5 linked regions of the Homo sapiens genome follow. The protein of the gene in region 4 purifies or fractionates together with the protein of the main gene of each other region. This does not show direct contact. Each region holds a gene or a part of one and is shown on either strand. Other genes may lie near its edges.

Region 1 (6,529 bases), about 48 Mb from region 4:
GCATATGGCCTCACGCTGCCCCGGCCTCCTGGACTCAGGAACTCTGTCTTCCAAACTCTATTCTCCATCTGTGAGGCTGTAGCCGAAAGCTTATCATCTTTTCAGGGCTAATGATGGCATTCTCAGTTCTCAAGCTTCAAAGTTCCTTTCTCGGCCAGCAGCCCCCACCTCTGCCTCCTCACCCTGAGCCTGCTTTGGCACTCTGGAGCTCCCAGGTCCTGGTCTTTACCTGTCCCCCCACATCCATAATGCTCCAGGCTCACTGACCTCCCCTGCAAGCCTGGAGCCTGTGGTCAGACCCTCTACGTTCATACAGCTCCCCTGGATCGTCAGCCATTCCAAGCCTTCCCACTGGCATGCCCGCCTCACTCCTAGGTTATTAAGCACTGCAAACGAAGGTTGCCTAGGGCATGGTGACCAGCCCCACAGGTCCCCCGTGCTTCTCGCGGCTGGAGCTCTGCTGGTTCGAGGCTTCCTCAGGGGTTCCTCCCTGCCCTTGTCACTGTTACCCCAACCACTATCCACAGATGCCCTAGCCCTCTGCTAGGGACAGACTCCCGCCTCTGGTCTTGGGTGCCACCTCCCATCTCTGCAGGCTGCCCCCTCTGCCTAGACCTTGAGTCCCTTCCTTCCTGCCCCTCCTGCTGTCCCATCAGCCCCTTTCTCTCTTGCTGCTATTTTCCATTTCTCCTTTTAAGATGAGCCTACACCCACTCACCACGTTTTCTTTGTGTTGTTAATTCCATTCTGCTAAGAAAAGCTCCTCGGGCATCCTCTTGAACCATCTCACTTCCATGACCAGCTGCCTTCTCTCGCCTGGGACCCCCAGCCTCCCTGGCGTCTGCTGGCCCTGGTAGTCCCTGTCCCCACCATGCTCTCCCCCTGAGCGGTCTCATCCCCTCTCCAGCTGCAAAGCCTCTGCCGGCACCTCCTCGGACAGACCCCTACATCCCTCTAACAGTTCCAGCCTCTGTAACTTACTTACTTGCTTGCTTACTTATTTATTTATTTGACAGAGTTTAGCTCTTGTTGCCCAGGCTGGAGTGCAATGGTGCTATCTCGGCTCACCGCAACCTCCGCCTCCCGAGTTCAAGCGATTCTCCTGCCTCAGCCTCACAAGTAGCTGGGATTACGGGCATGAGCCACCACCCCGGGCTAATTTTGTATTTTTGGTAGAGATGGGGTTTCTCCATGTTGGTCAGGCTGGTCTCAATCTCCCGACCTCAGGTGATCCACCCACCTCAGCCTCCCAAAGTGCCGGGATTACATGTAACTTATTATTAAACATTACCTGGTTAACCTTCTCTACCTGCCTCTCCTATCCCATTCTTTCCTTCCTTTCCCTCTTCTTCCCTCTTCCAAAAAGAAAAAGAAATTGGGCCTTTTAATTTTGAGCCAGAGAAACTGCTGCGAAGGCCTTTGCCCAGCCTCACCCTGGGAGTTAGTCGTCGTCTTCATTGTCGTCTTCGTTGTCTTCTTCTTTCTTCCTCTCTTCTTCTTTCTTCCTCCTCCTCTTCTTCTTTCTTCCTCTTCCTCTTCTTCTTCCTCTTGCTCCTCCTCCTCCTCCTCTTCTCCCCCAACCCCCACGTTCACTTCATCCCCTGGGAGCTGAGGCTTCCAGGCTCCAGCCTGCAACACATACCGTTCTACTCCCTCTCATCCACAGCCTGCCGGACCACAGGCTGCCCCTACCCCCACTGAAGGGCTGCCACACCAGCCCCGCTTGTCACTGCATTTCTGCTAACTCTTTCTGTTGCGTCCGCACATGACAGGCCCCACCACCATGTGCACATCTGGAAGCCCCACTCAGGTGGCTTCTTTGCCCAAATGCGCTCCTAGTTTTCCACTTCCTGGTGAACCAGCTGTGCTCTTGAGCTCTTGCCCGCGTCCCCTTCTCAGCATCGTCCCATTTCCACTTCCTCACCCCCACGCAACAGGGGATGCTGACCTCAGATCCTCATGCACTGCAGCACAAGACACCCTGTCCCTTCAGGGCCCTTCTCCAATGCTTGTTCATCATGACACTGAGACGTGGTCTCCAATCCATCAAGATCCCTCCTGCTGGGGTCCTCACAAGTTCTGTCTTAATGGACCACTTGGAGTCTTGCCTATTACCTGTAATGGCCTGTAAATTTCCTGGAGTACGGACCAGGAGTGGTTCTGATTCCCCACGGCAACAAGCGGATAGCAGGCTGCTGGTAAAGATCTGTAGAATAGATAAAGAGCCACGTGGTCTTTTATTACATAATCCTAAAGAAAATAGGAAACGAAGGACAGGATTCCATCTTAAGAAACCCCTTTCAGCTGGGCGCAGTGGCTCACATCTGTAATCCCAGCACTTTGGGAGGCCGACAGATCACCTGAGGTCAGGAAACCAGCTTGGCCAAAACCGTCTCTACTAAAAATAAATTATCCAGGTGTGGTGGCTCACACTAGGGGGACAGAGGCCGAAATTGTGGCTGCAGGAACATGGCGAAGGTCCGGTTGACTCTGCACCTGCGAGTCGTAAATCTCACGGTCCAGCCAGCCTGCTCTGGGTCTCTCTCTTCCATCCTTGGTATTTCAAAGAAACACTTGCAGCTCCTTCAAAGCCACATAGCCTCACTTCCCCTCTTCTCCCTGGTAAACTCAGCAAAAAAGGGACATCCACAGCAAAAGGAACTCAAGAAACAGTAATAATCCTGGGGACCTGGACTCACTGAGACAGCCCAGAGACCGTAGTGATCAGGGTGCGGCCCTTTTCAGTGCCATTGAGAACAAGGGAGGGAGAAGTCACCTTCTCTTGCCACATCTTTGTCATTGCACTCCTTCCCCAACCTGGGGCTGCAGAGAAGGTCTGCCCACCTGGCTTCTGAGTCATCCAAGTCTAGGAGGTTGCTCTTTGCCTATGTCCCCTGGTCCCCAGGTAGGTGCCAGTTAGGAGTGAGGTGTGGGCAGTGGCCGCCCTGGTGGGTTCCCCTCTCTCTGGCTTCTCCTTACAACTTTTTCCTTCCCTTTAAGCTTTACAAATACATTCCACTTGCAACAATGTTATGTCTGTATTAAACTTTAAAATTATACTCTGAACAGACCTGGTGTGATTCCATATGGAATGATTTACATGCTAGGCAAGAAACTTTTGCCAGCCAACTGCTAGTTGAATAGTTATTCTAGAGACATTATCAGATTCTATTACTGCCAGGGAAGTTGTTAAAGTTGACAGTTCTTCGGTTCCTGGAGAGCAGGAAATTGTAATGTTAATGCTTATTAATGTGGCTGTTGTCAAAGGTATAAGTAGAAAATAATCACTCTGGTGGCTCATGCCTGTAATACCAACACTTTGGGAGGCTGAGGCGGGTGGATCACTTGAGGTCAGGAGTTCGAGACTAGCCTGGCCAACGTGGTGAAACCCCGTCTCTACTAGAAATACAAAAATTAGCTGGGCATGATGGCACATGCCTGTAATCCCAGCTACTCGGGAGGCTGAGGTAGGAGAATCGCTTGAACCTGGGCAGAGGTTGCAGTGAGCCAATATCGCGCCACTGCACTCTAGCCTGGGTGACAGAACGAGACTCTGTCTCAAAAAATAAATAAAATAACCCCTCTGTTGTGCTCTTGCAGCATTCTGAAGTCCATGGAGTTTGCACCGTCCGAGGGCGCTGGGACACAGGTACGTGTCTCACCTCAATGGTCAGCACTAGCATCAGCCCCGCTGCTGGTTACCACTGGTCCCTCCGGCATATCCCATGATCCACTGTTTCTACGAGACCTCTCACTTACAGCCGATGAGTCATACTTCAAGAACATTTAACCAAGTTGAAGCAAATTATCTTTTTTTTTTTGTCTCCTTTTTTTCCATGTGTCCAAGGCATGAACCAGGCATAGATCAAAAGCCAAGCTGGGGATGAACAAGGGATTGCTTCATCCCTGACTGATAGGAGATGGGCACTACCAAAAAGCAAATTATCTTTAACAAAAAGAGGCAAAAAGAGAAAAGCTAGTGTTTTCCAAACTGGTAACTGAAGTGAAATTGTGATTTCACTTCAGCAGGTACTAAGAACATAAATAAAAAACAATTTCAGATTGTGTTTAAGAAGGCCAGGCTCAGTAGCTCATGCCTGTAATCCCAGCACTTTGGGAGGCCAAGACAGGAGGATCGCTTTGAGGCCAGGAATTTGAGACCAGCCTGGGCAATATAGCAAGACCATGTTGCTATTAAAAAAAAAAAAAATAGCCAAGTACTGTGACATATACCCGTGGTCCCAGCTACTTGGGAGGCTGAGGCAGGAAGATCGCTTGAGCCCAGTAGTTCAAGGCTATAGTGAGCTATGATCGCACCACTGCACTCCAGCCTGGACAACAGATTGAGACTGACTATTTTTTTTTTAATTGCATTAAAGAGCAGCCAAAAATGGATTGGTTTAGGAACTTTAGTTACATGCTGCCTCAGTAGAGAAGGTACAAGGGAAGGATGACTGTGGCCCAGGGTCATCTGGTGGCCAATTAAAATTGACATCCCAGACCAAGCATGGTGGCTCACTCCTGTAATCCCAGCACTTTGGGAGGCTGAGGTAGGTGGATCACTTGAGGTCAGGCATTTGAGACCAGCCTGGCCAATATGGTGAAACCCTATCTCTGCCAAAAATATAAAAAATTAGCTGAGCGTGGTGGCGCACGTCTGTAATCCCAGCTACTTGGGAGGCTGAGGAAGGAGAATCACTTGAACCCAGGAGCCAGAGGGTACAGTGAGCCAAGATCATGCCACTGCACTCCAGCCTGGGCGACAGAGTGAGACTCCATCTCAAAAAATTAAAAAATCAAATCAAATAAAATTGACATCCTAAGTGGAATCTGACTCCTGATGCCCAGAAGACAGCCAACATCTTTGTGGCTGGCAAAAAAAAAAAAAAAAGAAAAGTTCCCTTTACAGTAACGTTCGGACAGACGTTTGTGGCTTGGCAGCCAGTCTTATGGCCAAATGAGGCACGGGCTCAGGTCGCTTGAGTTTGAGAACAGATGAGAGAATAATTAATTTTTTTAGGAGCTGTGGAAGTCTAAGAAGGAAAATGACTTCAACTAGAATCCATTCTTTCTAAAGGGAACTTGTTTTCCACGTGTGTTAAACGACTTGGGGGGAAATCAGCTGTCCGCAGCCCACTTCCTAATCAGATCGAGAGCTGGGTGGGAACGCGGACAGATGGAGGGAGGCAGGGCTCCAGGCCTGGTGGCCCCGGGAGCGGGTGAGTGGCCGGCCCCGCAGTGAGACCCCCGCTCTGCCCCTTCTAGGATGCGGCCAAGCCCCTGGAGGTGCTGTTGCTGGAGAAGAACCGCTCGCTGCAGTCCGAGAACGCCGCGCTGCGCATCTCCAACAGCGACCTGAGCGGTAGGTTGGCCGGGCTTCGCGCGTGTGCGGTGGTTGGTTCGCTTCCAGGGGTCGGTCGAGGACGAGGAAGGTGAATCGTGAGTCTGGACAGATGCATGGCCAGAGAAGCGCCGGTTGACGAGAACCTTTGACTAACGCGTGTTGGGTGCCCTCCTCCTCACCGCTCCTCCCTTCCCTTCCCCGCCCTGCTTAAAGCTGGATGTCGAGACGGGCCAGCCGCACAGGCTCTGCGGAGGTCAGTTAGGGGCAGTGCGGCTGGAATCCCCGGGAGGGACAGCTCGGAGGACGTCGGCCTTTCTGATCTGTGTCTGGTTGTGCTGCACAGAGGCCAGGGGCAGTGTGAACCCAGCCTCGCTCTGGTGGTGTTTTCAGGGACAGCCCCGGGCCTGCCGGGTCCAGTAGAGGTTTTTCTTCCTTGGTCAGGTTTCCCCTGGGGACGCGTCCCCCATCCTTAGCCTTTCTTGGCTCATCCCCCAAATGGTGGCGTCACTTGACTGTGCTTCTGGTTTGGGCAGCTGGTAAAACGCGTACAGGTGTCTCGGGCTCTAATGGTATTGCATTCTCAAAACGGGCGCGCGCCTCCACATCGAGGGGGCTCGGTACGGTGCATCGCCTCAGAGCAAGAGGTGCGAGCGAATCCATTGGTCCTAAAATGTCAGTGTTTGCTGCTCCTCCGGCCGGGGCCAGCGGGCCCAGTAAGAGGCCCGCGACCCGTCAACTCTTCCCTGTGTGTGTCACCAGCTCCTTGTCACGCTAGGAGTTTGAGTCTATGTCAAGGGGACTCTCCAGGCTGCAACGTACAAGAAAGGCGCAAACATGAATGCATGTTGCTTGTTTTGGGAAGCCTCGTTTGGCTGACTTACAAATTTAATCGGAAAACAAACCAACCCACCTCATTGGCCCTTGTAAAAAAAACCTGCACTTTTTTTTGTTTTCCCTTTTGCGGGGGCAAACTTTTGCATTTTGGTCTTGGTTTTTTTTTCCCCCTTTGGAATCCCCCATAATGCATTCTGTTTGCCCTTCCTTGTAGGGTCAGCCAGGAGGAAAGGGAAAGACCAGCCTGAAAGTCGGCGCCCGGGATCTTTGCCGGCCCCCCCTCCTTCTCAGTTGCCCCGCAACCCGGGGGAGCAGGCTTCCAATACTAATGGTACACACCAGTTCTCACCA
Region 2 (6,529 bases), on a different chromosome or scaffold from region 4:
GGACCATCCTTTGGTTATAACTTAAGATATAACAGATTAACAAACATATTTTCATAATGAATTTTTTGTAAATTCATTCAATTTGTAGATTGTGTGCTTTTTGAAGAAAGGTATTAACATTTGTTGTTTTTTATTGTTTAGGTTTGTTTTGTCTTGTTTTAACTTACTATAATTATCTAAGGGTTCTGAACATTTCTGGAGCTCCTTTTTGACATTGCCTCAGTAATCAATTTTACTTTTTTAAATGAAAAGCATGAAAAAACAGAAGAGTAGTTTTATTACAAGGAAATCAGTCACTGCTAAAGGCTTTTTAATAACAGACAACTCTCCTTCCTTGGCAGGTCAGGAATTATGGTTAAAGGTGGATTTTCACTGATGGTAATAAGATATTACTTTATACCCCTTCCCTCCTCATGAATTAAGTCCATCTAATCTTTACTGAGGACCTGCTGAGTGGTAGACACTATGATTTGTTTCTGTTTCCACAGATGTCACAATTGTCAGTAATTGTGGACCTTTAGAGTAAGAATTATCTGTTTTTATATTTGTATACTACTTTCAGGTACAAAACTCAGAACATGACCTAGTGTAATTCATTCATTACGTATTAGATATTCTATATTGCCTAAGGTTACCGTCTGTTGTTGATATTCTAGTGACAAAGCTAAGAATTAAATGAACTGTGTTTCGAAACTACTACTTACTTGAAACAGAAAGTTGAAGCAGGTTGGTAGTAAAAGAAACACTGTCTAAACTAAGGCTATTAATGCCAGTTTGTTCTCTTTGGATCTTGAGTTATAAGAATGTTGATTGAGATTTTTACTTCTCAATAGAAACAGGACTTTATCATCTTGAATTTAAAAAACACAAGTGTTGGTTTTTTTCATTTTCTTTAGAATTTTGGACAGAAACAAGCTCTAAGAAATTTTTCAGTTATCTAATTTAAATGTGATTTATCTTTAAAGCAAACTTGCTGCTGATGTAATTTTGAAAACTCTTGATTTGATTAACAAACTTAAACCATTGGTTCCTGGTATGGAAGTAAGCTTCTACAAAATACTTCAGGTGAGTTTAAACTCTTCAAACATTGAAGTTTATTCATACATAAATGGTCCTAATATAAGTTTCTGTTTTAATATTCTTAATCTTTAGAAGATAATTCTCTTAGAATTGGCAATGAGAAGAAAGTTTAAAGTTGTTGTCTTAAGCAGTTATAATAGTCTCACTGCACAGTTATTTTATATACTTTCACAGGAATTGAACATAAGTGCTCATGACACTAATGTAGAGAATGTTCACAATAGTGCTGCTTCCTCAGCCTTTTCCTTTCTTGTGTTGTATTTGTATATTTCTTCATTTGTTTCTGTTGGCATTGGAGGAAGAGTGATATTTGTTTTAGGGTTTTTGTTTTTGGTTAGGGTTGATGTAGGGTATTAAGGGGATAGGGAGACAGCTGGAAGAAAAGGATTGTGATAATTAGAAGGGCTGTGCAGAAAATAGCTAACTCACAAATTTCAATGATAATAGTAGCTGAATATGATCTCTAGCTGTTATCAAAAGGCAAAGTACAACAAATTTAGTTCAAAGTTCTAACTGGCTTTTATTTATGATTCTAGAATTTGGCAGCCTCATTCTATAAAATAGAATGAATCATTCCCCTGGGCTAAGCAGAGAAGGTTGACTTTATAGACCAGAAAAGGGCTGAAGAAAGCACAAATAGGGAACTAAAAGCAGATTGGTCATTTCAAAGTTACTTTTCCTATAGAATTATAATAAAGGGGGCTTCCTTATTATACTAACTCAGGTTGACTGAAATCTCCTGGTTTTTTGGAAAACTGGCCCATTTCAAAGTGCAGTTTGATTACATGGCACTCATCCAAGTGACTCCTTTCTGGTTTGATCTGGTCTGCTAAAGCATAGTGGAGGAGACTACTCCAAAATATTAGCCTCTTAAAAACTTTGTGTAATAATATCTACAACACCTACCTTTACAACAGATGTTTAACAAAAATGAGTGAATTAAATTACTGCAGTAGCTTAACAGAGACATCTCTAGTGACTGTATAGACAGTGTAGAAGCCAAAACTGAAACCTTAGGCAGGGACCACTGGCATGTTTTGAGATTAAGGGACTGAGTTCAAATGTTGACTCTACTGGTTCTTAGTACAGGCTTGAGTAAGTTATTTCACCTCTCTCGACTTCAATTTCCTCGACTACAAACTGGAAATAATGAGGCTTACCATTGAGGGTTTTGGAGATAAAGCTCTGCTCTTATCACAGTTCTGTGACACTGGATTATACTCAAGTACCTACAAGGTACTCAATATTTTAATTATAAGGGATTTATATTTTAATATTTTCTTCACTAATATCTCAATGTATTTTTAAAGGAGTCAAACTGATGTTATGTCCATTATTTAAGATGTTTTTCATAATACAGGTTGAGCATCCCTAATTTGAAAATCTGAAATCTGAAATGCTCCAAAAAACAAAACGTTTTAAGTACCAAAATGAGGCTCAAAGGTGATACTCAAAGGAAGTGCTCACTGAAGCATTTTGGGTTTTTGGATTAGGGATGCCCAACCAGTAAGTACATGTAAATATTCTAAAATCTGAAAAAAATCAGAAATTTGAAACACTTCTGGTCCCAGACATTTTAGATATATGTTGATGACTTGGGGCTTACAATACTAATGTAAAATATTTACTGACATAAATGATTGAAGTAACTGTATTTTTTCGATCTTTAAATTTAAATGTTCTAATTTAATTTGAATTTTACTTTTTATTTTATAGCCTTAATTTGGAAGTGATTGGCCATTTTTTTCTTTTAAATGATAGCTTGGAAAAAAACATTAATTCTACACATCAGTCAGTTGTGGGTTTTTTAATCCACGAAAATATATAAGGCATAATTTTTATAGGCACATTTGAAAGCATTCAAAACCTTTGCCAGATTTTTTTAAACTGTTCATATTGATTGCATTGCAGTGTAAACAGCTATAACAAGGTATAATATATTCAAACTATATAGACTATAATATATTCAAACATTAGAAACATTTTAGAATTTGCCTAGAATTAAGATTTACATATATTTACTCACCTCCTATCTAAAAGAGCTGACATTGTTTATTCTTTCTGCTGCTTCTTTTTTGGTTTCTGATTTATTTAGGACCCACGTTTGATTACTCCTTTGGCTTTTGCTTTAACGTCAGATAATAGAGAACAAGTACAGTCTGGACTGAGAATATTATTGGAGGCTGCTCCACTGCCAGATTTTCCTGCTTTAGTGTGAGTTGTAATCATTTGCAGTGTATCTCTTGTGGTGTTGGAATACCCTGCTATGTCTCTTTAGTCCTCAGTATAGATACACAAGCAAATTAGTGAATTGAAGACTTCATTGTAATAGTAATTTTTCAAGTGATTTCTAAAAATGTTTGATTCTTATAAATGAAAAGTTCAGATGTATACTCACTCAGGGAAAAGCTAGATCCAGGCAGTTAAATGTTCTTCAGGTACTATCCCTCTATGTCTCTAGCCACTTCTTTTTAATGATAACTTCTGGACACTCTTAAGCCTACATCCTCCCAGTTTAGTTCCTCCATAGAAAGAGCTTTTCCTTCCTGACTGTTTAAGGAAAAGGTCTAAGCATTAGTCATTGACCAGGCCTGGGTTATCCATGAGAACGATGTGGACTAAAAGTTAGTTGGGATAGGAGAATAGGAGAGTTCCTAAAGAAAAAAATCTGAACTTTTATCAGAAAGTGGAAAAATGACAACCAGGCAAAATTTTCTACTATACTCGTTACTTTCAAGCAATAAGAATATTTGCAATTATGTTTGAAAAAAAATTCAGATTTCAGGGCTCTCTGAACTAAATGTCTATTAGGAGTCTGGTTTAAAATTTTTTTAAGTCATTTATATGTATGAATTTGTAAAAATGGTTTGAATAATTTGAAGTAGTTGATAAACAGGTAAGATATTCCCTGTATACCGGGATCAGCAAACTGGCCAGTGGACAGGCATCTGTTTTTGTAAATAGTTTTATTGGAATATGGCCACACCCACTCATTTTTATACTCTGTCTATGTTGCTTTCACTCTATAAAAGCAGAATTGAGTAATTGTGACAGAGACCAGATAGGTCCTTGAGTCTAAAATACTTACTATCTTGACCTATAAGAAAAAGTGCTGGTCCATGCTATATGCTATTCACTGATTTAGCGATTCCACTTTTCAGAATTAGCAATTTAGGTCATCATACCTTAAGAGTTAAAGTATGGGATGTAAGACCTAGAGAACATATAACCAAAATTCCCTTAATTTTATAATAAATATTTTTTTAACAGCAACAACAAAAATACACAGGAAGCTTTTCAAGTTACAAGTTAAAAGTGGTCTGTAAAGCTGCTCTATTTTGTGATGGCCTGCTTGCATAAACTGGTAATCTGACATGAAACAAAACCTTAAGAGCTTCAAAGGGGAATCTGCAGCCTCACTGAACATGGAAGTCTTATCCTCTGCCTCTGTGTGTGAGGCCTTCCCACCATTTTGACTGTGTCTTGGCATTCCCTGTCTTATTTGTGTTGTAAATAATTTTCTCTTTGGGCATTATCTCAGATGTCCATTTTATGCTTACTATTTAATGCCCTTATTTGACATTATCTTGGGCGTTTAATAAACTGAATGTATATTATGGATGCATTGGTAGGTAGGGTTTTTGTGTGTGTGTATTTACTTGTTTGTTTTCGAGACAGGGTCTCACTCTATCACCCAGACTGGGGTGCAGTGGTGTGATCATGACTCACTGCAGCTTCGACCTCTGGGGCTCAAGTGATATTCCCAACTCAACCCCCTGAGTAGCGGGGACCACAGGCTTGTGCCACCACAACTGCTTAATTAATTTATTTTTTTATAGAGGGGTCTCACCAGGTTGCCCAGGCTTGTCTCGAACTCTTGGACTCAAGTGATCCTCCCAAAGTGCTGCGGTTACAGGTGTGAGCCACCATGCCCAGCCTATAATAAATTAGGCTGAGTGCCTGCCATCTTGCAGTTTGCACTTTAGTTAAGAGATAAGTGAAAAAAATATTTTGTTTTGTGGTAGAAAGCGTGTTCCAGATAAAGGAACAGCTCATATGAAGGCCTGAGGTAGGAGAAAGAGAGGATTTTAAAGGGTTAGAATGGAAGTCAGGTTGGTGAAAAGTATGTACTGAGTGAGAAAGGAAAAGGACTAAGGACGTAAAGGCCAGGTGATATCACCCATGATAAGAACATTATTCTGACCAGTACCAATAACTTTGTACTTATTACAGATAATCCACACTCATAAACTAGTCTTACAATGCCTCCAAACCAGAGGTGAAGCTGTCATTATAAAAGGTTAGAAACAGAAAAGTGGGTGCTCTGGAAAATTCAGAATATTTCCCAAGACTTCATTTCATCATGGTCTCCAAGATTATTTGAAGACTTCTATTCAAAAAAAGGACCCATTCTTAAAAATTCCCTAATTCTGCACTAAGTCTGCCTTTTCTTCTATTTTCGTATAATTTTTTTTTCCTTTCTTTGACTCCCATTCAGACTTGGAGAAAGTATAGCAGCAAACAATGCCTATAGACAACAGGAAACAGAACATATACCCAGAAAAATGCCCTGGCAATCATCAAATCACAGTTTTCCAACATCAATAAAGTGTTTAACTCCTCATTTGAAAGATGGTGTTCCTGGATTGAATATTGAAGAATTAATAGAGAAACTTCAGTCTGGAATGGTGGTGAGTGAAAAAATAGCAATTATAACCTGGTACATATTAGCTATATGTCAGTCCCAATTATAACGTGTATCTAAACACTGTCAGGTACAGATTTCACTATTGAAACCTTAATATAAGAAATAACAATATTCTGGAAAATTTGGAAATAAGAAAAATCAGTCAAAATTTCAACATTTTGCCGGGTGCGGTGGCTTACGCCTGTAATCCCAGCATTTTGGGAGGCCAAGGAGGGTAGATTGCCAGAGCTGAGGAGTTCAAGACCAGCTTGGGCAATATGGCGAAACCCCGTCTCTATTAAAAATACAAAAAATTAGCTGGACGTGTTGGCTCATGCCTGTTGTCTCAGCTACTCTGAAGGCTGAGGCAGGAGAATCACTTGAACCCAGGAGGCAGAGGTTGCAGTGAGCCAAGATCATACCACTTCACTCCAACCTGGGTGACAGTGAGACCCATCTCAAAAAAAAAAAAGAAATATTTGTGACTTACCTGATGTAGCATTTGTTTTTATTTTGTTACTCATCATTAAGTTTTAATGATTTAGTTTTGAAGTAGGCATTTATTTTGTCATTGTGTCAAAATATTTTATTAAAATTTTAAGTTTTTTTACTCTTAAAATGTAGGTAAAGGATCAGATTTGTGATGTGAGAATATCTGACATAATGGATGTATATGAAATGAAACTATCCACATTAGCTGTGAGTATAAGCTTATTTTAACAATGTGTAATAAGCTTTAATAGATGTATTCCTAAAATGAAA
Region 3 (6,529 bases), on a different chromosome or scaffold from region 4:
CTAGTTTAGATTGTTACCAAGCACTAGGTTAATAAATATCTTGAACAGTTTCTGTAGATGAAAAGGTTGATTGATATTTGCTGATGCTGCTTTTATCATGCTCTCATTCTTGAAGGATAAAATTAGCCCTTCTGGCCTACTCTTTGAAAACAGAGTAGTATTTCACGTGGGTTAAATAGCTTTTGAGTGATAGCAGAGCCAGAAAGAAGGCTAGTTCTTCCCTGCAGTAGTAGCAAAGAGAATTAGTCTTAGTAATTATTAATAGTAATGTGAGCCATTTTTGAAAGCTACTCTGTAAGCTATACTCATTGCTTGTCTTCTTAGTGTGTTAGCTTTTATAATCGCAATTCTTATAATAGTCTAGTGCTATAGATGTTCATGGATTGTTTGATGCTCCATAACTCCTCATTTAGATAACTTTTTAGTAACAGCATCTTCCAGTGGCGACAAAATAGTTGTCTCAAGTTGCAAATGTAAACCTGTTCCACTTTTAGAGCTTGCTGAAGGGGTAAGTGATTTTTTTTTTTTTTAAACTTTTAAAAATCTTAGTTTTGCTTGACTGGCAATTGCTTATTGTGGTGCTTGCGACTAAATATAAAGGTTTTTAAAAGCATTATTTTTAACTTAAGCTCAAAATAATATAGTAACACTTAAAAATGAGATATGTGTACTTACTAAAGTATTTTTAGGTAAAATAGTTTTGAATATAGGGGAACAATTGAAGACTTGAATTTTGTTGACTAGGCACTTCATTTCTCCATTTTCCCTCAGTGGGAGAGGATCTCTGTTGCTGCTATTTTAGGACGATATCCCACATAGGTTACTAGGTTGACCTGAGCATATAAACTCTAATGACACAGCACTGCTTTACTGATCTTGGGCTCAGGACCATCAGGAACAGACTCACAGCTGATGGTAGCTCTCTGCTTCAGATTCTGTCCACCTGTACTGAGGGGCCTGTCTGAGCCTCCCCCATACTCTCCTTAAACAGGTTGGCTTTGTCAAAATGAGCTTAGGTCCCAGGGCGTTTAAATGAAGCTCTCACTACGTACTGTTGCCTTATCCTTTTTTTTTTTTCTTTTGAGATGGAGTCTCGCTCTGTTGCCCAGGCTGGAGTGCAATGGTGCAATCTTAGCTCACTGCAACCTCCGCCTCCCCAGTTCAAGCGATTCTCCTGCCTCAGCCTCTCAAGTGGCAGGGATTACAGGTGCCCACCACCACGCCTGGCTAATTTTTGTATTTTTAGTAGAGACGGGGTTTCACCATGTTGGCCAGGCTGGTCTTGAACTCCTGACCTCATGATCCGCCCGCCTCAGCCTCCCAAAGTGCTGGGATTACAGGCATGAGCCACCACACCCAGCCTATCCTTTTGTTTTATAAGTTAATCCCTCTGATTAAGGATAATACTGGCTTCTTCATTTCTAGTCACACACTCTTTGAAAGCTATTTCTTTTTTAAATAAGATAAGATTTAAATAAAAAGATATGGTAGTTGATAGCTTTTTTTTTTAATTTCAAAGTTTTTCTAGCAGATCTTAAATTATTATGAATTGTCATAATTTTACACACTGGGATAGGTAAAGTAGCCCAATTAGAAAGAAAACAGCAGGACAACTGAATAAAAGCTCAACTAATTTAAAGAGGACTCATGATTTTTATCAATCCTCTCCTAAAGGTATCCAGTGGGATTGACCTGAACTTCAGTTCTAACCCACAGATGTTGGAGACTGGGACAGAGGGAACATGTGCTAACAGTAGAAATGGAGTTTGAGGCACTCTGTTTAACCTGACTTAAGCAGAATCAAGGCATAGAATGTCTCTGGTCGATAAAGGCAGACTGAAGTCTTCAAGAGCAGGCAAAACATCTTAACCATCTTTGGATCTTTGTATCCTAAGATGTTCAAAAAACTTGTTAATGTCAACATCAAAACAATTTCAACTTCTACTCTACCACTATATATATGTACTACTGTTATGCATTATGCCTTAGGATCAGTGAATCAGTATTTGGGAGCTTTTTTTTTAAAGTATAAAAATAACAGATGGTATTTACAAGTGTGACATAATTCTAAGAGTTTTGTGAATATTCCAAATTAGTTGCTATGATTCTTAGCCCTCTTTCCCATAGTTAACAAATTGTATCATAATGCTGTTGGATAAAAGTAAGATTAGTTGAGTTCAAATTTTCAATCTATTTTAATTTAGTTATGAAAATATTTGGAAACATTGGTTTTTTAGCTTTTACTAGTAATGTTTACAGAAACATATTAATGTGCTAATAACCTTTTTGTAACTTCCAAGTCCTCTTACTCGTGTATTATTTGAGGCATTAGACCTTTTCTACTTGAGAAAATAAATTATGATCTTACTGATTTTAAAATTTTAGAGTAGAACTTTAAGTTCATATTTATTTTCTTTGATTTTGTATTTCACCTCTTTAAAGTAGAATGTACCTTTGCCTTGCACCTTGAGCAGTTCAGGATTCCTGTAATAACCACACAATTTCCATTAATTATTTAAGTTCATTAGTTGCATTAATAATACATTATCATAAAAAAGACCTATCAACAGGGTTAGCCAGCTCTAAATATAATTTTTATTTTGAGCCCTTAAGAGTAATTGTAGTTGTTGTGATGATTGGAGTCCCAATATATTGATCTTCAATGGACACCATCTTTTTCTATTTTATTTAAAGGCTGTTTTGATAGTTCTTAGCAAACTGTCCTGATTTGCAGTGACAACCAGATTCTAAAGCTTCTTAGTCTCCCTCAACTAAAGTCAATTCCTAGAATGGTATCTGCAGGAGAATTACAGCAACTATACTGAAACATTGATGTTGTGTGCATCTTGCTATTTTTATATGTTAGTTGATACTCTTGGTCAAAATTTTAGAGCTAGAAGGAACCCTGGGGTCCACAGAAGTGAACACAAATCTATTTGATTTCCTTGAAGCATTTTTGACCCCCTTAAAAGCCGTTGGATCCATGTGGAAGAAAGACAGTAAGAGAGTGGCTCTTTAGTACAAGATTAGCATGTTTATAGTATTTGAACGTGCAATGGGGGAAGGGCTAGAGGAAGGGGATCATATGCACCCTTTAAAGAATCTCTTTTGAGCAGAGGATATTTCTGAGAAGCATGGATTCTCAAAGTAAGAACAGTAGATCTAGTCTTCACCTTTCGTTTCTCAAATGCAGAAGCATAGGCTCAGAAAGGTGAGATGATTTGCCTAAACCTACATAGCTTGCCTTTTAACTTTTCTTGAAGTCATGAAATGTCTCCTTTGAATTTGAAGAATCCAAGGATGCACTGTGGAAGTTCCAACTAATGTGACTTCGTAGTGCATCTAAAGGTTACTTAGGAAAAAAATGCAACACTGTTCTGTATAGCATAGTTACTGATGGCACCACCAAATTGGTGACACTCAAAGATACTCACTGAGAAGAACTTGACAACATCTGTATTTTAGCCATTCTATAAAGATGGAGCATGGATATGGGCCTTGTGCTAGTGAAACTGACATTCTGGCGGGGGACAGGCAGTAAACTAGTAAACAAAAAATACCCAGATATTGGTAAGTTATCATGCAGATAACTAAAATAAGATATTGTGATAGCAAGTTACATTAGGTAGCCAATGGAGGTCCCTTGAAGTGTGGTGGCACTTAAGTTGATATCTGTTGACCAGAAAGTCTTCCAAACAGGGTTCAGTGAATTTAGCTTTCTAGGCAAGGAGAATAGCTGTGTAGAAGCCTTGAGGCAAATATAGGGTTGTATATTTAAGGAATGGAAGGTCAGTATGGCTGGAGAATTAGTGGATGAGGAAGAAAATGGTAACAGATGAGGTAGGGCCCAAATAATAGGACTTTGAAAGCCAGGTAAATGTTTGGAGTTTATTCTTGGTGTGATTGGAAGCCGTTGAAGATTTATTATTATTATTATTATTATTATTATTATTTTTAAATTATACTTTAAGTTTTAGGGTACATGTGCACATTGTGCAGGTTAGTTACATACGTATACATGTGCCATGCTGGTGCGCTGCACCCACTAACTCGTCATCTAGCATTAGGTATATCTCCCAATGCTATCCCTCCCCCCTCCCCCCTCCCCACCACAGTCCCCAGAGTGTGATATTCCCCTTCCTGTGTCCATGTGATCTCATTGTTCAATTCCCACCTATGAGTGAGAATATGCGGTGTTTGGTTTTTTGTTCTTGCGATAGTTTACTGAGAATGATGGTTTCCAATTTCATCCATGTCCCTACAAAGGACATGAACTCATCATTTTTTATGGCTGCATAGTATTCCATGGTGTATATGTGCCACATTTTCTTAATCCAGTCTATCATTGTTGGACATTTGGGTTGGTTCCAAGTCTTTGCTATTGTGAGTAATGCCGCAATAAACATACGTGTGCATGTGTCTTTATAGCAGCATGATTTATAGTCATTTGGGTATGGAAGGAGACATGATCTGATTTACATTTTTAAAGTCCACCCTACTTATGAAGGATGGAATATAGGAGAGCAGGAGTGGAAACAGGGAAACCAGTTAGGAAGCTGCTGTCGTAGTTTGGTAAGGTTTGGGTTAGTGTTAGTAGTAGCTATAGATAAAGGGGAGCCCATGTGGGATTCATTCTTGGGTTGGAGTTTAGAGAGCTTACTGATAGATTGGAGGGGAGGGAGAACAAGAAATCAAGGGTTATTCTGGGTTTTTATCTTGAGAAACTGGATGGTGTCTTTACAGAGATGGGGAACAGTTGAAGTCAGGCTTTGATGACCTGATGTCTGAGACTTGGTCTCCTTAACGGAGATTTGCTGGAAGACTTAGGGCAAGTATCTTGACTTCTTTAAAAAAAAACTTATCCCATCGGTAAAATGAGGGCTGTACACTGGAAATTCTTTTAAAGTCTCTTCTATTTTTAGCATTTTTGAGCTGGGGATTGATTTTAATGTAGGATATTCTGTGGAAATACAAGAGCAGGCTTTATCAAGAGGAGATAGGATGGGCAAACAAGCCCTGATGGGAGACCAGGACTGCCAGTGTTTTCTAAGCTTCCTGTGTCGTCACCGGTCCACAGAAGTGAATGCAAATCTATTTGATTTCCTTGAAGCATTTTTGACCCCCTTAAAAGCTGTTGGATCCATGTGGAAGAAAGACGATGAGAGAGTGGCTCTTTAGTACAAGATTAGCATGTTTATAGTATTTAATTTAACCAATATTTATCATATGCTTACTAAGTGTTGGATGAGACCTGAAAGTCAGCTCTGGGCTCTGTTAAATTAAGGTAACTTTTTTTTTTTTTTTTAAATAGCAAAAGCAGACATGTGTCAATTTAAATTCTACATCTATGTATTTGGTAAGCGGAGGCCTAAATAACACTGTTAATATTTGGGATTTAAAATCAAAAAGAGTTCATCGATCTCTTAAGGTAAGCAATTTAAAAAAAATCTTCATGAAAAAATGGATATCTTAATGCATTTAGAGTACTTACCAAGCTTTTATTTTTGAGCTTTTATGATAAAAATAAGAGGCTTCAGAATTGAACTAAGATTTGTTAGGGAAAATAAAGGTGCTATTTAGCCAAAAACTTATTTTTATGTCTTTTTTCTTACATGTGTAGCATTAATGCATATGATCAACATTTACAACTTTTTTCTTGTTTTTTATTTAGTTCTACTCTTATTTGAATGAACCACTTCACTCATTTTTTCCTAAACTATGGTGTGTGGTCATCAGGGATCTTTCCTTAGGGCCAGGTGGAAAAAATGAGAGTTGTTTTGTGATGATAGTATTCAATACAGTAATCAGAGTTGGGTCAGCTTTTTAGTTATGTAGTATATTTGGCTGCTCTTGTTTGTGTTTTTTTTTTGTGTGTGTGTGTTTGTATTTTTAACTTGGTAATATTTTGTAAACTAATTTACTATTTACAATTAATGTTTCTTTAATAATTAGCTTTTTGTAGTTTCAGAAAATAAAAATATTCAGCACAAGAAAGTCTATGGTCTTTTTTTTGGAATTCTACTTTTCATTATATTGTCTTTTTAATATTTAGAAGTTGATCTTAAAATTAATTTTTGTCTTAAAAAAGTTTTAATATGAAAAATATAAACATATTTATATCTACACACATACACAGAGGAAGAACTTTCTTTAATCCATCTCCCATGTAAGCTTCACTTACCCCATCCCTGCATGGCAAAATTTGATGATTTTTTCCATTTTCAGCTTTCTCAATTACTCTGGATGGTTTTCTGTCTTTTCGGTGTGAAATTCGTAATGTTTAGCTCCCTCATTCATTCTGTTAATGAATATTTTGACTACTTGTGATAGTGGGAAATCTAATCTTTTACCTTTGGATCTCTACAGTCGTCTCCCTGGTGATTAACACAATTTCTGGCACTTAGTAGGTTCTTAGTAAATGTTTGCTGAATGACTTATTCTCCACAGTTGAAATTAGGAAGACACTTGCCTCTTTATAAAGTCATAGAAATTACATTGGACCCCATGTTCTTAATTTCCCAAATGGGAA
Region 4 (5,680 bases):
TTCTGTCCCGGTGGGGTCTTTCTGCTCCGTTTCCTCTTCTGTAAACCATGTTCCTGGTGTGAGCATGCACAGTTGCCTGCCTCTGTCTGCCTGCTTCTTTGCTCTCTCCCTTTGCTGAGCCATCATCTCCATCTAAAAAGCCACTGACCCAGTTCCTCAGGGCATTCACTTAACCTCTGCAGTCCCACTGTGGCCTCACCTGTGCCCAGGACTGCTCATCCAGTGGCTGTGTCTCCAGCCTCATCTCGTCTGAGTCCAGTGGGGCGTCCTAGTAGTGTTGGTCTCACTCCTTAAAAGCCTTCCGTGTTCTCCTCCCTCTGGCTGCTTGGCAGAATCCTTCACAGACTCGTTCATTCAGCCTCGTAGGTCAGCCTCCACCTCTGCTGCTCGTGCATAGGACATCTTCCACATTCACTCCTGAAATAGCGGGTGGGTGGGAGGGGTGCCTGCTCCTGGAGAGAGGCCTGCGAGTTCTTAGAGAGCTCTGTATCCCCAGCATGGTTGGCCCCATGCACTGCATGCCCTCCTTGATGCCAGCTGCCATCTCCCTGCTGATGGTGCCTGGATCCCTCCAGCCTGGAGCTCCAGCTGCCTCCTGAGCCCCACGCCACACTCACTCAAGCTGAGTGCTGTGTAGCTGGATGTCTTCTTGTCTCCAACCTGTCCCACCTGCATTTCACATGTCTGAGAAGGGAGCCCCGGGCCGGGTGTGGTGGCTCACGCCTGTAATCCCAACACTTTGGGAGGCCGAGGCAGGGGGCATCACCTGAGGTCAGGAGTTTGAGACCAGCCTGGCCAACATGATGAAACCCCGTCTCTACTAAAAATACAAAAATTAGCCAGGCATGGTGGTGGCGGGTGCCTGTAATCCCAGCTACTTGGGAGGCTGAGGCAGGAGAATCGCTTGAACCCAGGAGGCGGAGGTTGCGGTGAGCCGAGATCGCGCCATTGTGCCATTGCACTCCAGCCAGGGCAACAAGAGTGAAACTCTGTCTCAAAAAAAAAAAAAAAAAAGAAAAAAAGGAGCCCCTGGCATACAGTCACCCAGCAAGATTCCCCAGTCGTCCTAGGCTCTTTTTCCTCCTCCCCATTGCTTCCTGCCCTCCTTAGGGCCTGTATCTTTTGTTTTCACAGCAGACAGGTTTCTAGTGCCTGGTGCTCCTCCTGCACCCCCCACGTTAGGGGCCAGAGCAGCTTTAATCAAATGCAAAGTTGATTGCATCACTCCCTGTTTACAAACCCCAAAAGATTCCATTCCCACTGAGGGAATCCACACTTCTTGGCAGATGCTTCCAGTCTCTTTTGGAAAGTATATATAAATATTTGAGGTATAAATAAAAGAGAATGAGCTGGAATGTTGCAGACTAGAAGGGAGCTAGATAAGGAAATGGGGGCCATAAGCACAAGGACTCCCCTTTCCAGATGGGGTGTAGAGGACATAAGGATGGCAAGACCGTTTACATCCTCGCCAGCTCCCTGGTTGGGAACATAGTAAATATCTTTGTTGATGGTGTGGGAGGAGCTAAGTGGATCAGGCTCTGGGCCTGGTTTCCTTGGAGAGGGGAAAATGAAAAGTGTTGATATGTAAACTCAGTCACCGACACCCTGCATCAGATCTGCAGGGCAGGCATCACCCCGCCGGCCTGGGTGAGACTCCTGGGTCTGGGCCTGGCCAAAGTCTGCCAGGTTGGGAAAGCTGCGCTTGGAAGAGGTCTGTTATTTTCCTCACTGCTTAAATCTTGAGGTCCCTCCACCAGGCCACCCCTGCTTTGTGCCACAGTCATGCGCTGGCACCTGGACTCACCTGGTCCTGCAGCCCCTGGCAATTTGATGTGCCCCTCCCGGCTTTCTGGAGCCACCCTTCCCTCCCTCCAAGACAGCCTGCCCTTTGGGAAATTTATGTTGTCTTTGCAGCTGGCACCGTGCTGTCTGGCACGTATATCAGTGCTGTTCCATTGATCTGTCCAGCTGAGTCCAGAGCAAAAGAGCTAGCTTTGGCGGGCAGTGAAGTGAGAGCAAGGGTGTGCGACCTAGCCAGGCCACTTACCCCAGCCTTCCCTGTCCCTTCACTACCTTGACCTCAGTTTTCTCCTTCAGGACTAAAGGCCAACTTCTTATGCTCTACAGCTCCAACCAGAGGTACCAGCTGACCCATATAATCTGGAAACAAGTTTGAATTCATTGCTGTTAGAAAGAATTGCAGTAATACTGAGTGAATCAAACAAGGCACATGTGCTCTCGTTTGCATTGCATATACATTGATTATCCCAGAAAGAAAACAAAAGAAACTGGTGATGGTGGTTACCTATTGCCTATTCAAAAATAACGGTTTAAAAAACACCCCAAAACTAATAGGGATGGATCGTGAGTGGTTACGGAAAAAGTAAAATAATGTTTTGCCCCTAGTTTGGATTTGACAGGAAGAACTGGTAATATTGGGCCTGAATCCATCCAGCATGGCCCTAACCAGCCAGGGCCAGTCTGGGCTGCTCCCCTTGGGTTGGGCCTGCACCCCATCCCTGTCACTCAGATGGCTTTTGTGGCCTGTGTCCCAGCTTGGTCTTCAGGTCTTGCCTGGCTGAGATTGTTGGTTTTCATGGTAAAAGCAGGGTCAGACTCCCTGCCGTCACCTGCTGCGTAAGACACAGAAAGTGCTGCCTGCTGACTGACTGTCTCTCCTCAGGGACTGGCTGGCTTCGAGCAGGGCATCGGAACCAGGCCTCCTGGCACTGGCCTGGGTAGAGCCAGGGCGAGCACCAGCTGACCCCCAGTGGAACCCTGTGACAGTCCTGCCAGGGCCCAGGCCATCCCAACCGACTTCCATCTCATGGACCCTCCAGCGGAGAAGCCGGGAGAGGCTGGCGGACTGCAGATCACACCCCAGCTGCTGAAGTCACGCACAGGCGAGTTCTCCCTGGAGTCCATCCTGCTACTGAAGCTGCGTGGCTTGGGACTGGCTGACCTGGGCTGCCTGGGAGAGTGCCTGGGCCTGGAGTGGCTGGACCTATCAGGCAACGCGCTCACCCACCTGGGCCCGCTGGCCTCCTTGCGCCAGCTAGCTGTGCTCAATGTCTCCAACAATCGGCTGACGGGCCTGGAGCCACTGGCCACCTGTGAGAACTTGCAGAGTCTCAATGCCGCAGGCAACCTACTGGCCACCCCGGGCCAGCTGCAGTGTCTGGCTGGGCTACCGTGCCTGGAGTACCTGCGGCTCCGAGACCCTTTGGCCCGGCTCAGCAACCCGCTCTGTGCCAACCCCTCCTACTGGGCTGCAGTCCGGGAGCTGCTGCCTGGCCTGAAAGTCATCGACGGTGAGCGTGTGATTGGGCGTGGTAGTGAGTTCTACCAGCTGTGCCGAGACCTGGACAGCTCCTTGCGTCCCAGCTCCAGTCCAGGCCCCAGAGCCACCGAGGCCCAGCCCTGGGTGGAGCCAGGCTACTGGGAGTCCTGGCCCAGCCGGAGCAGCTCCATCCTGGAGGAGGCCTGCCGGCAGTTCCAGGACACACTGCAGGAGTGCTGGGACCTGGACCGCCAGGCCAGCGACAGCCTGGCCCAGGCGGAGCAGGTACTCAGCTCTGCGGGCCCCACCTCTTCCTTCGTCTTCTGAACGTGGCCTATGGCCCAGGACAGCCTGGCAGGTGGCCTCGCTGCCCCCAGTTCCCCTCTCTGCCCCCACACTCGTCTTAGTTGCTTCACACTGGTCACTGGCCCTGCACACTGGGCTATTGCTTTATCCCTATCCTGAGAGCAGCCCCTCCCCACCATCCCTCCACATGCTGCAAGGACAGACTGAAGGGCTGTGAGCAGGTGTAAGGGCTCCCACATCCGTGAGCCTGTGTCCGCAGCTGCTGCCACTCTGGGCTGCTCCAGCCTGCAACTTAGTGGAAGGAATTACTTCCTCCTGAGGCTACAGGCGAGAAAGGTAGGGATGGGCCAGCCTCCCGTCTCAGCTGTTGGGAGACAGTAGGCAGGCTGAGTGGCCCAGAGCACTCCTGGAAGTGGGACTCCCCTGCCTTGCAAATGTGCCTCTCCAGACTGCTCCTGCACTTACCCCCTCCCCGCAGCACCTTCTCTGCCCGTTCTTGTCCACACATCTATTAAATGCTTCTGTTTTCATTTGCATCCCTGCCTGGCATTTCATGGGGGCACCTCTGGCTCTGGAGCACAGGAGGCTCTGCTCACCCTGCCCACAGGAAGGGGTCCCAGAGGAAGGGTCCTGTCCCCCTGCCCTCTCTGGCCGCCTCTGAGCTACGCTAAGGAGGAAGTCGTGCAACACAAGGAGCTGAGAGGCAGCTGGGAGAGCAGCTTTATTATCATGGCTGGGGATAGAACGGGTTCCTCTCCCTGGGGGCTGGGGTCTTCCACTGGTTACCACCCGCAGCGGTCCTGGAGGCACCACGCATCTCTAGACAAAAGGGGAAACAGGTTTGGGGGTGAGGGAGGTTGCTTCAGCCCCAGTCCCAGCTTTCCTCCCAGGCTTCTGACCTGTCCCCTCCCAGGCTCCCAAAGCCCAGCCCAGCCCCTCAGCATTCCCAGGGCTGGCCTCATCCAGACGGTGCTCTCAGCCCCCTGGTGCCTACCAGTGCTGGCTTAGCTGCGGGGCAGGGCCTTGGAGAAGGCGAACTGTCCAGGGAAGTAGAAGCTGTGGGGGTCCTCACCAGCCCGCTGCACCCTGAGGCACTGGGTCTCCTGGTGCTCCTCAGCCTCCTGCCAGTGCCCAAAACTGTTCAGGCAGTGTAGGAGGGGTGGGCAGTGCCAGTGGAGGGCTGCCAGCATCCTCCACATCCCCTCCACATCCCTTGGAGAATGTCCAAACAGGCACAGCGCTTTCTAGCCCCCACTGCCCTCCCTCCTGCTTGGCCAAGCTTTAGCCTCGAGACCAGCCCATAGGCTCAGCTTCCATCCATCTTCCCAGCCCTGTCACCACCTGTGCACCCTTGCCCCTTCTTACCCGCAGAACTTGGGTCTCTATGGGGCAGTGGACCAACCGGCCCAGAACTTTGTCCTCAGAGCCCAGTTTGATGCAGGCCAGGCATTTCCGTTTCCTCTGTGGGGGAGCGGGGAGCATGGGGTGAGCAGAGGAAAAGGGTGAGGGAGGCCTGGGCATCATGAGGGTGGGAGCCAGGGCTGCCCATCATGGGACCAGATCCCCAACTAGGCCCTCGAGCCCAGGAGCAAGAGGTCATGCAGGCCAGCAGGTTTCAGGCACAGCCACCCTAGAATGTCAGAAGTCAGACCCATGCAGTTTTCAAACTATGGAACTTTCATGTGTGTGCAGGCAGGAGTCCTTCCCAGATGGGTTGTGTGGCACATGCATAAACACGCATGTATGTGGTTTGTATGCAGGAGTGTGGGTGGATGGGTGTGTGATGTATGCATGGATGTGTCTGCTTGTGCTCGTGTGAAGGCAAGAATCCTCCTCCGATGGGTTCTTCCCACCCAACGCCTCCAGAGTGGCTCAGCTGTCACCTATTCTATTTATTTTCTTGTAAGATTTGATTTTGAGGTTGATGAATCATTGCTATAGTCCAGTGCCCTCCTTGAGCCGACAGAGGGAACTGGGGCCTTTGCAGAACCTGTAATACAGAGCCCAGGCCGTGCTCACAGAGCGGGAACTAGAACACAGTCACTGCACTCCCAGCCCAGGCATCACCCCCACGGTGGAAGGTTTGCCCCCACC
Region 5 (6,529 bases), on a different chromosome or scaffold from region 4:
CAAGGATGGAGGATGCAGTTTCCATGGCAACGGGGCTGTCCACAGCCAGGCAACTTCAGAGCCGGGCTCTCCGGAGGAAGCAGATGCGCAGAACAGCCGCAGAGCTGCCTCCCGCCTGCCAACGAGGGGGCTGGCAGAACAGGTGGCACAGGGTGGCAGCCTGGTGCTGCCCAGCCTAGGGGAGAGGGTGGAAAGAGCAGTACTCCCTCTTATTATCTTGTTATGGCCAAGTTCCTCCAGAAGGGAAGCTAGGGAGGTGGCTTGAGTGTTGAGAGGGGTTGGGCTAGGGTCCCCATTGTCCCTGGAATCTCTGGGTGGACACAGGCTCTGTCCTCTGGGATCTTCCCCCAAAAGCCAAATGTCTGCTGCTCTTGTGATGGCCACTCAGCTACTACCCTTTGGGTCCTTTGTCCAGAGTGTGAGGATGTTGGTGAAGGCCATGCCCTGACTAGATTCAGGGATCCTTTTCTTTCATCTAGCTACTGGGGAAGGACCTGGACCTTCTTCAGGGGCCTCCCTGCCCCTGGCCTCAGTGACCTGGACCAGTTTGCTGAGTTGGGTTCAGGTTTGGCAGATGCCTGCCTCTAAGTGCTGGCATTGGAGGGGCCCCAGAGCCTGACAGCTCCTGCTTCCTGACACTGTGATCTTGTTTAGCCTCCTCCTGGAGACCAAGGCTGGAGTGGGTATGTGAGTGGGTAGAGAAGCAAAGACAGCCATCTGTGTGTTTAGAAATGGGACGTGTCAGGGGCATGGACTCTTGAGATGGAGGAAGCCCCGAGGGCACCCAGGTTGGCAAAGAAGATTTGACTCCAACTATTAAAAAATAATGACTTTCCTTCACCGACCTTGGAAGCATCAGGGCTAGGGTGTTCTACTTTGCTGTTGAGCACATGGAGACTTAGGATGGAAGGCTTTGCCTGGATCACCCATGGAGTCAGAGGCTGAGCCACAGCCAGACCTGGGACAGGCCATCCACCTCCCGCGTGGCCTCCTAGATGCACCCTCCCTTCAGCTGGCTGCTGAGGGTCCTAGCTAGGTAAACCTTTCAGGCTCACTCCTCTTTCCCTTTATCATCCGTGGGCTTGCTTTTAACCCTTCTTTGCTAGCTTGCTTTAGTTGAAGGAGGTTCCTCAACCCTAGGGTTGGCCAGGCAGGTGGACAAGTGGAGTCTTGGAGTGGCTTCTCCTTGCCAGGCAATAAGTCTCTCATTACTGCTAAGTGGAAGGCTCATTTCAGAGCTCATGGTGAGAGCGGGGCGAATGCTATAAATAGTCGTGTTGTGAAGATTGGCGGGTGAGCAGTGACAGGGCAGGGGCCTTGCAGTCATCATAGTGGGTATTTGTGCTCCTTCGCAGGAAAGGTGGCGGGGCAGGCTCTGAGTAAGAGGCAACTTGACCCCTGTTCTGGCTGTCCCTGCCTGCCTCAGGGTGGCTCTGGCATGTCTGTGCCCCTCCATACTCATTGGGGGATGGGGAGCACTGGATTCTGTGTCTAGGCAGAGGGAGGTGGAGTGCCTTTTGGAACTTGGGGCCCAAAAGGTGGTACATCAGCCCACTGGGTAATGTCCTGTGCTAGATCTACTTGTCCTACCTGACCTTCCAGTCCAGGGTCTCCCTCTTCCCCATCAGCTAAAACCTGAGTTTACATGTGAGGAGGTATGGGAACCATACCTGATAGTCTCAGAGGTTGACATAGCTCTAAACTAGCAGGGGAATGAATGGGAGTGGAAGTGGTGTTTAGCTGGCCTTGATCCTTGTTCAGGGTCTATAGTAGCATGTCTGCAAGAGCAGGGGCTGGAGGCCTAAGGACTGGGGGTGCTGGTCTTCTGATATCTGTGGGTCAGTCAGCGTTGTCCAGGGTGGAGAGGAGGTCAGGGCCAGGGGGTCCTGGGATGGAAAGTCTGGTAGGTGAGACCTTGGCTTAGGCACATGGGGTCCCTATCCTGGGGTGGTCCAGGGGTGCCAAGCTTCATGGCTCTGTGAGACCAGTGCCTTCTGGAACAGCTTTTTGGTCTCAGATGTACACATAGGAGAGCAGTGCCAGGCTCCTGGGTTCTTTTACCACCTGCCCTAGGGTGTCGTCCTGGGTCTTCAGACTATTATTGCACTCTGGACTATGGGGCCCTGCTGTTAGGGTGATCTATGTGTGCCTCCCTCAGCAGGGCTTTGGAACTTGGAAGAGGTTGAGAGGCAGAGCCAGCCCCTGGGACAGAATAGGTAATAGACAGTTCTGGGGGTCACCCAGGGACAAGTGAGTCAGGGGCCCTGTAGGGCTCATTCTACCTTTTGCCACTCTCTGACTAGGAGCGGAAGCTGTGTGCCTATCCTCGGCTGGAGATCTACCAGGAAGACCAGATCCATTTCATGTGCCCACTGGCACGGCAGGGAGACTTCTATGTGCCTGAGATGAAGGAGACAGAGTGGAAATGGCGGGGGCTTGTGGAGGCCATTGACACCCAGGTGGATGGCACAGGTACAGAAGGTGGGGTATGAGGATGGGGCCCTCCTGGAGCTCCTCTCTTCTGGACTCCAGGGGCTTGGTTGAGGAGGCTCCTCCCTCTCTGGGTTGGCACTGTGGGTGTCAGGCTATGCTTGGCAGAGGGAGGAAGGAGACCCACCTACCTGAGGACCCACATGTGGAGTTGCCTGTTCCCAGACACATGGATCTACATAGATGTGGATTCACACACATTACCTCCTGGCAACACAGATACAAAGACCCTGCCTGGATTCCCTCCAGATGCAGCAGGAGTACCCTTGGAAACAAAGATCACAGACAGCTCGATGTTCATGGGAGGGGGCTGAGGCTGCTCAGGAAAGGAGTCCCTTGGGTGGGGCTCAGCAGGAAGTAAGATTGGCATAGATCTGGAAGGTAAGGAGGGGAGCAAAGTGTTCTCTTGTCCCTCAGTACGGGCCCCACCCAGAGCCAGCTGCTTTCTCCCTGCCAGGGAACAACCAGGGAGCATGCAGAGGGGAGCCAGGAGATCAGTCACCTGTGCCTTTCTCCAGGGCCAGCCCACACTCCTGCTGGCAGCCTCAAGGCCCCAGGTCCAGGCTGGAAGGCTGCTTGCCTGCCCACCCCTCTGCAATGATCTGTGACCCCGGGCTGTCTCAGGCACAAGGGGGTCTGCTGGGTTACATCCCAGATGGTCCCAGGGGGCCTTATCCTTGGCCAACCTGGTGGAGTTTGTGACTTCTAGGAGTGGTACAGGGCTGTGGGGAGAGGAACTGTCCCTCCTCTCCTCCTTCTTTAGCAGATGCTCTGCCCATCCAGTCTTCAACAGCCAAGGTCACCCTAGGGAGACGTGTCAGCTAGGGCTGGGTAGGAGGGTATTGGGAGCAGTCTCTACTCCCTAGGGGCCTGTGTCCAACACAGTTAACTTCATCTGCCACTTAATTACCTCCATGGGGTACAGCTCCCTTCTGCCTGGTAGTGCCCGGCAGACACTCTTCAGTGCCCCTACTGTGGGCACAGGACATGGCACAAGGTCAGCAGGCCCAGGCAGCCTCCAGGGCAGGAAGACAGAGTGCCTTCACTTTACTGTGACCTCCCTCTGCTGCCTGCCTCCCCCTCCTTGACCCACCCACCCAGCTTCCTTCCCTCCCAAACACTGCCTGTCAGGGTCATTGAAGGACTGCTTGGCACCCACTACAGCTGGCTGTAGTGGCAGCTCCCACATTCCCCAGCTCCTCAGCCTGTTTTCCTCCCCTCCAGCCCGCCCACCCACTCCCTGGTGTTGGGGCCAAGGGGTCTGCCCACCTCTCACAGGGCCTGTCCTGACACCCCAGCGGGACTCGGTGTTTGCCCACCAGGTGCATGCCACTGACACAGCAGTTGGTGGTGGGTGCATGCAGGATGTCTGACTGCCCAAGGCTTGGCCTGTCCCTGCCCGCCTCCCTGCTGTGGCCCTAGCTTAGGCCGGGAGGTGAAAGGGGGTGATTAGCTGCCTTGTGCCTGTTATTACATTGATGTATTATTTAGCTTCAGAGAGGCGATGAATATTTGATCGTCTTGCACTGGCTGTGGGCAGAGCGAGAGGGAGGGATTTGGGTGAAGGGGGTGGGCTTCAAGTCCCCTGCCCCAGTAGTCGTGGGGATTTAGGTAGGGCCCTGCCTTGCCTGGTATCTTCTGCCCAGGGATGCAGGCATGGGACTCTGGGACCTCCTCCTGTGTAGATCTTGGTGGGGGTATAGGGATGCTACTTCCCCGTATTGCATTCCTTTTTTTTTTTTCTTCTGCGGCAAGGTCTGGCTCTATCGCCCAGGCTGGAGTGGTGCAGTGGCAAGATCTCGGCTCACTGTAACCTTTCCCTCCCAGGCTTAAGCTGTCCTCCCACCTCAGCCTCCTGAGTAGCTGTGACAAGAGGCGTGTACCACCATGCTTGGCTAGTTTTTGTATTTTTTATAGAGATGGTGTTTCGCCATATTGCCCAGGCTGGCCTTGAACTTGTTAGCTCAAGTGATCCTGCCTCAGCCTCCCAAAGTGTTGGGATTCTAGGGATGAGCCACCATGCCCAGCTGGATTCCTTTTTTTTGTTTGTTTGTTTTTAAAGACAGTTTTCCTTTTTTGCCCAGGCTGGAGTGAAATGGCATGATCTTGGCTCACTGCAACCTCCACCTCGTGGGTTCAAGCGATTCTCCTGCCTCAGCTTCCTGAGTAGCTGGGATTACAGGTGCCTGCCACCATGCCCGGCTAATTTTTGTATTTTTAGTAGAGATGGGGTTTTGCCATGTTGGCCAGGCTGGTCTGGAACTCCTGACCTCATGTGATCCACCTGCCTCAGCTTCCCAAAGTGCTGGGATTACAGGCGTGAGCCACCGTGCCTGGCCTCCAGCTGAATTCCTTTGCTTGAAGTGTATATATGTCTCCAGGGGCTGTCTTCATTTCAGCAGGCTGTCCTGGCCTGAAGGAGGCACCCCTAGGCTCCTTCCTCTGAACATTCCTAGCCTAGGAGCTGGGTGGTAGGAGGTAGCATGCTGGGAAGCAGGCACATTCCTATACCTGGGGTCCCAAGAGAGCCATTGGGTGGGTGGGCAGACAGAACATACAGTTTAATAGGGCCAGGGAGAAACTGTCTCCCTCCTTTGCTCTTTTCAGGCCTGCGGTCCCTGGGGCACTGATCATTATTTAAGGAGCAGTGAGGGCCTGGCATCCTGTCCCCTGGTCAGAAGAAACTACCCAAAACTTAAAGCTCCCCCAGCTCCCTGACCACCTCATTCACAGGCTTCTGTCCTGGGAGCCACACCTGGGGCCTCAGCAAGAGGAGGGCCCTGGGCCAGCAGCCTGGGCTTCTAGGGCTCACCTCACCTCTGCCAGTAGCGCCCAGAGGGCATATTCTGGGGGCTGAGTGGGTGGTGGGGGTAGGGAGAGACCCCAAATTCCCCCCTCTCCTAATTCTCCCACCCCCAACCTAGGCCCCATTTGAGGCTCAAGGAAAGCCCCAGGCTGAGTCCAGGCGCCAAGCAGACCCCAGCTGCACCTGGCTTGGCTCCAACACCATGGAGACAGTGGCTGGGGAAGCTGGCTAACCCCTCACCTTCTGTGATGTTTGACAGCTGACCCTCTCCCCATCATACAGGAAGGGTAGCAGATCCACTTTCTCCCAGTCTGGATTCCTGCACACAGCGAGCCTGAGCCATGTGTTCCTCCTTGCCACCCCAGCCTGCATTCAGTGCCTCTGATCCAGGGAGATGAACCCAGGGGTTGCTCCTGGACAGGGCAGATGAAGGGGCTGCTTGCTTGGAGGATGTATTGGGGGTGGAAGGAGCAGGTTAGAAGGAGTTTGGGCCATCAACCTGGCTCAGCACTGGTTTGGGGCACCCCAACCACCAGCAGAGTGCTCTCATCATCCCCTTTTGCTATCTTGTGGCTCAGGAAGCACCAGTCATTGGGGGTGGGGTGGGTAAGGGTTTCTCAGGGTCGACCCAGGCATAGGGAGAGAAAACCCTTAACATGTTTCATCCCAGCACCCTCCTCCTTGCAGCTGGTTGAGTATTTCTCAGGCCTTCTCCATCCTCCTCGTACTTCAGCTCCCTCCTCAACTGGGACTTGGTGTGTACCAGAGGCAGGGGCCTGCTGACTCCCTGGATGCTGCTCCTGGGAGCCCTGCACGGGGGAGGGCTGCAGAGGGGCCTCCTGCTGCATTCTGCAGTCCTCGTGCCCTGTGGGTGATGTTCTGTAGCTGGCCCTGGACACATCTCTTTCCAAGCTTGAAGTGGGGGTGGGGGAAGGTGGAGAGGACACTACTTGTGTCTCTTTGTTCTACCTCAGCTCCTCACCTCAGGGCTGAGTGGCCCTTAATAAATGTGGGGGGAGGGCAGCAGGCTTTGTGGAAGTGCAGGGAGCTGAGGCTAATTTAGAGTGGGGAGAAGAGTGCACAGCTGCCTCCTCCCACCCTCTCTCCCTCCCTCCCTCCTTCCCTCCCTCCCTTCCTCCCAGCTCTTTCCCTCTGCCCTGTCTGTGCAGCCCCAGTCAGGGTAGAGGGCAGAGGGCAGCTGGAGCAAGCCCCCTGAGCCCGGGAGGCTGCATT

Evidence for each region.
Region 1: the proteins of LRRC61 (region 4) and CUX1 purify together in Homo sapiens (affinity purification with mass spectrometry, with the first as the bait; one large-scale study listed by BioGRID). This does not show direct contact.
Region 2: the proteins of LRRC61 (region 4) and CIP2A purify together in Homo sapiens (affinity purification with mass spectrometry; one large-scale study listed by BioGRID and IntAct). This does not show direct contact.
Region 3: the proteins of LRRC61 (region 4) and NEDD1 purify together in Homo sapiens (affinity purification with mass spectrometry; one large-scale study listed by BioGRID and IntAct). This does not show direct contact.
Region 5: the proteins of LRRC61 (region 4) and TEX264 purify together in Homo sapiens (affinity purification with mass spectrometry, with the first as the bait; one large-scale study listed by BioGRID). This does not show direct contact.

What each region holds. Positions count from the first base shown.
Region 1 is NC_000007.14:102,190,242-102,196,770, forward strand, and holds part of CUX1 (Homeobox protein cut-like 1), read left to right. Parts: intron 1-3,600; coding exon 3,601-3,649; intron 3,650-3,834; exon of another isoform or gene 3,835-3,964; intron 3,965-5,265; coding exon 5,266-5,362; intron 5,363-6,392; coding exon 6,393-6,529. UniProt on the Homo sapiens protein: May be involved in intra-Golgi retrograde transport.
Region 2 is NC_000003.12:108,559,891-108,566,419, reverse strand, and holds part of CIP2A (protein CIP2A), read left to right. Parts: intron 1-965; coding exon 966-1,065; intron 1,066-3,175; coding exon 3,176-3,294; intron 3,295-5,578; coding exon 5,579-5,771; intron 5,772-6,391; coding exon 6,392-6,466; intron 6,467-6,529.
Region 3 is NC_000012.12:96,912,310-96,918,838, forward strand, and holds part of NEDD1 (protein NEDD1), read left to right. Parts: intron 1-413; coding exon 414-508; intron 509-5,311; coding exon 5,312-5,428; intron 5,429-6,529. UniProt on the Homo sapiens protein: Required for mitosis progression. Promotes the nucleation of microtubules from the spindle.
Region 4 is NC_000007.14:150,334,035-150,339,714, forward strand, and holds the end of LRRC61 (leucine-rich repeat-containing protein 61), read left to right. Parts: intron 1-2,683; 5' UTR 2,684-2,827; coding exon 2,828-3,607; 3' UTR 3,608-4,122; downstream 4,123-5,680. Other genes in the region: RARRES2 (retinoic acid receptor responder protein 2 precursor), read right to left, coding at 4,591-4,707, 4,952-5,047.
Region 5 is NC_000003.12:51,697,103-51,703,631, forward strand, and holds part of TEX264 (testis-expressed protein 264), read left to right. Parts: intron 1-2,303; coding exon 2,304-2,472; intron 2,473-6,529. UniProt on the Homo sapiens protein: Major reticulophagy (also called ER-phagy) receptor that acts independently of other candidate reticulophagy receptors to remodel subdomains of the endoplasmic reticulum into autophagosomes upon nutrient stress, which then fuse with lysosomes for endoplasmic reticulum turnover.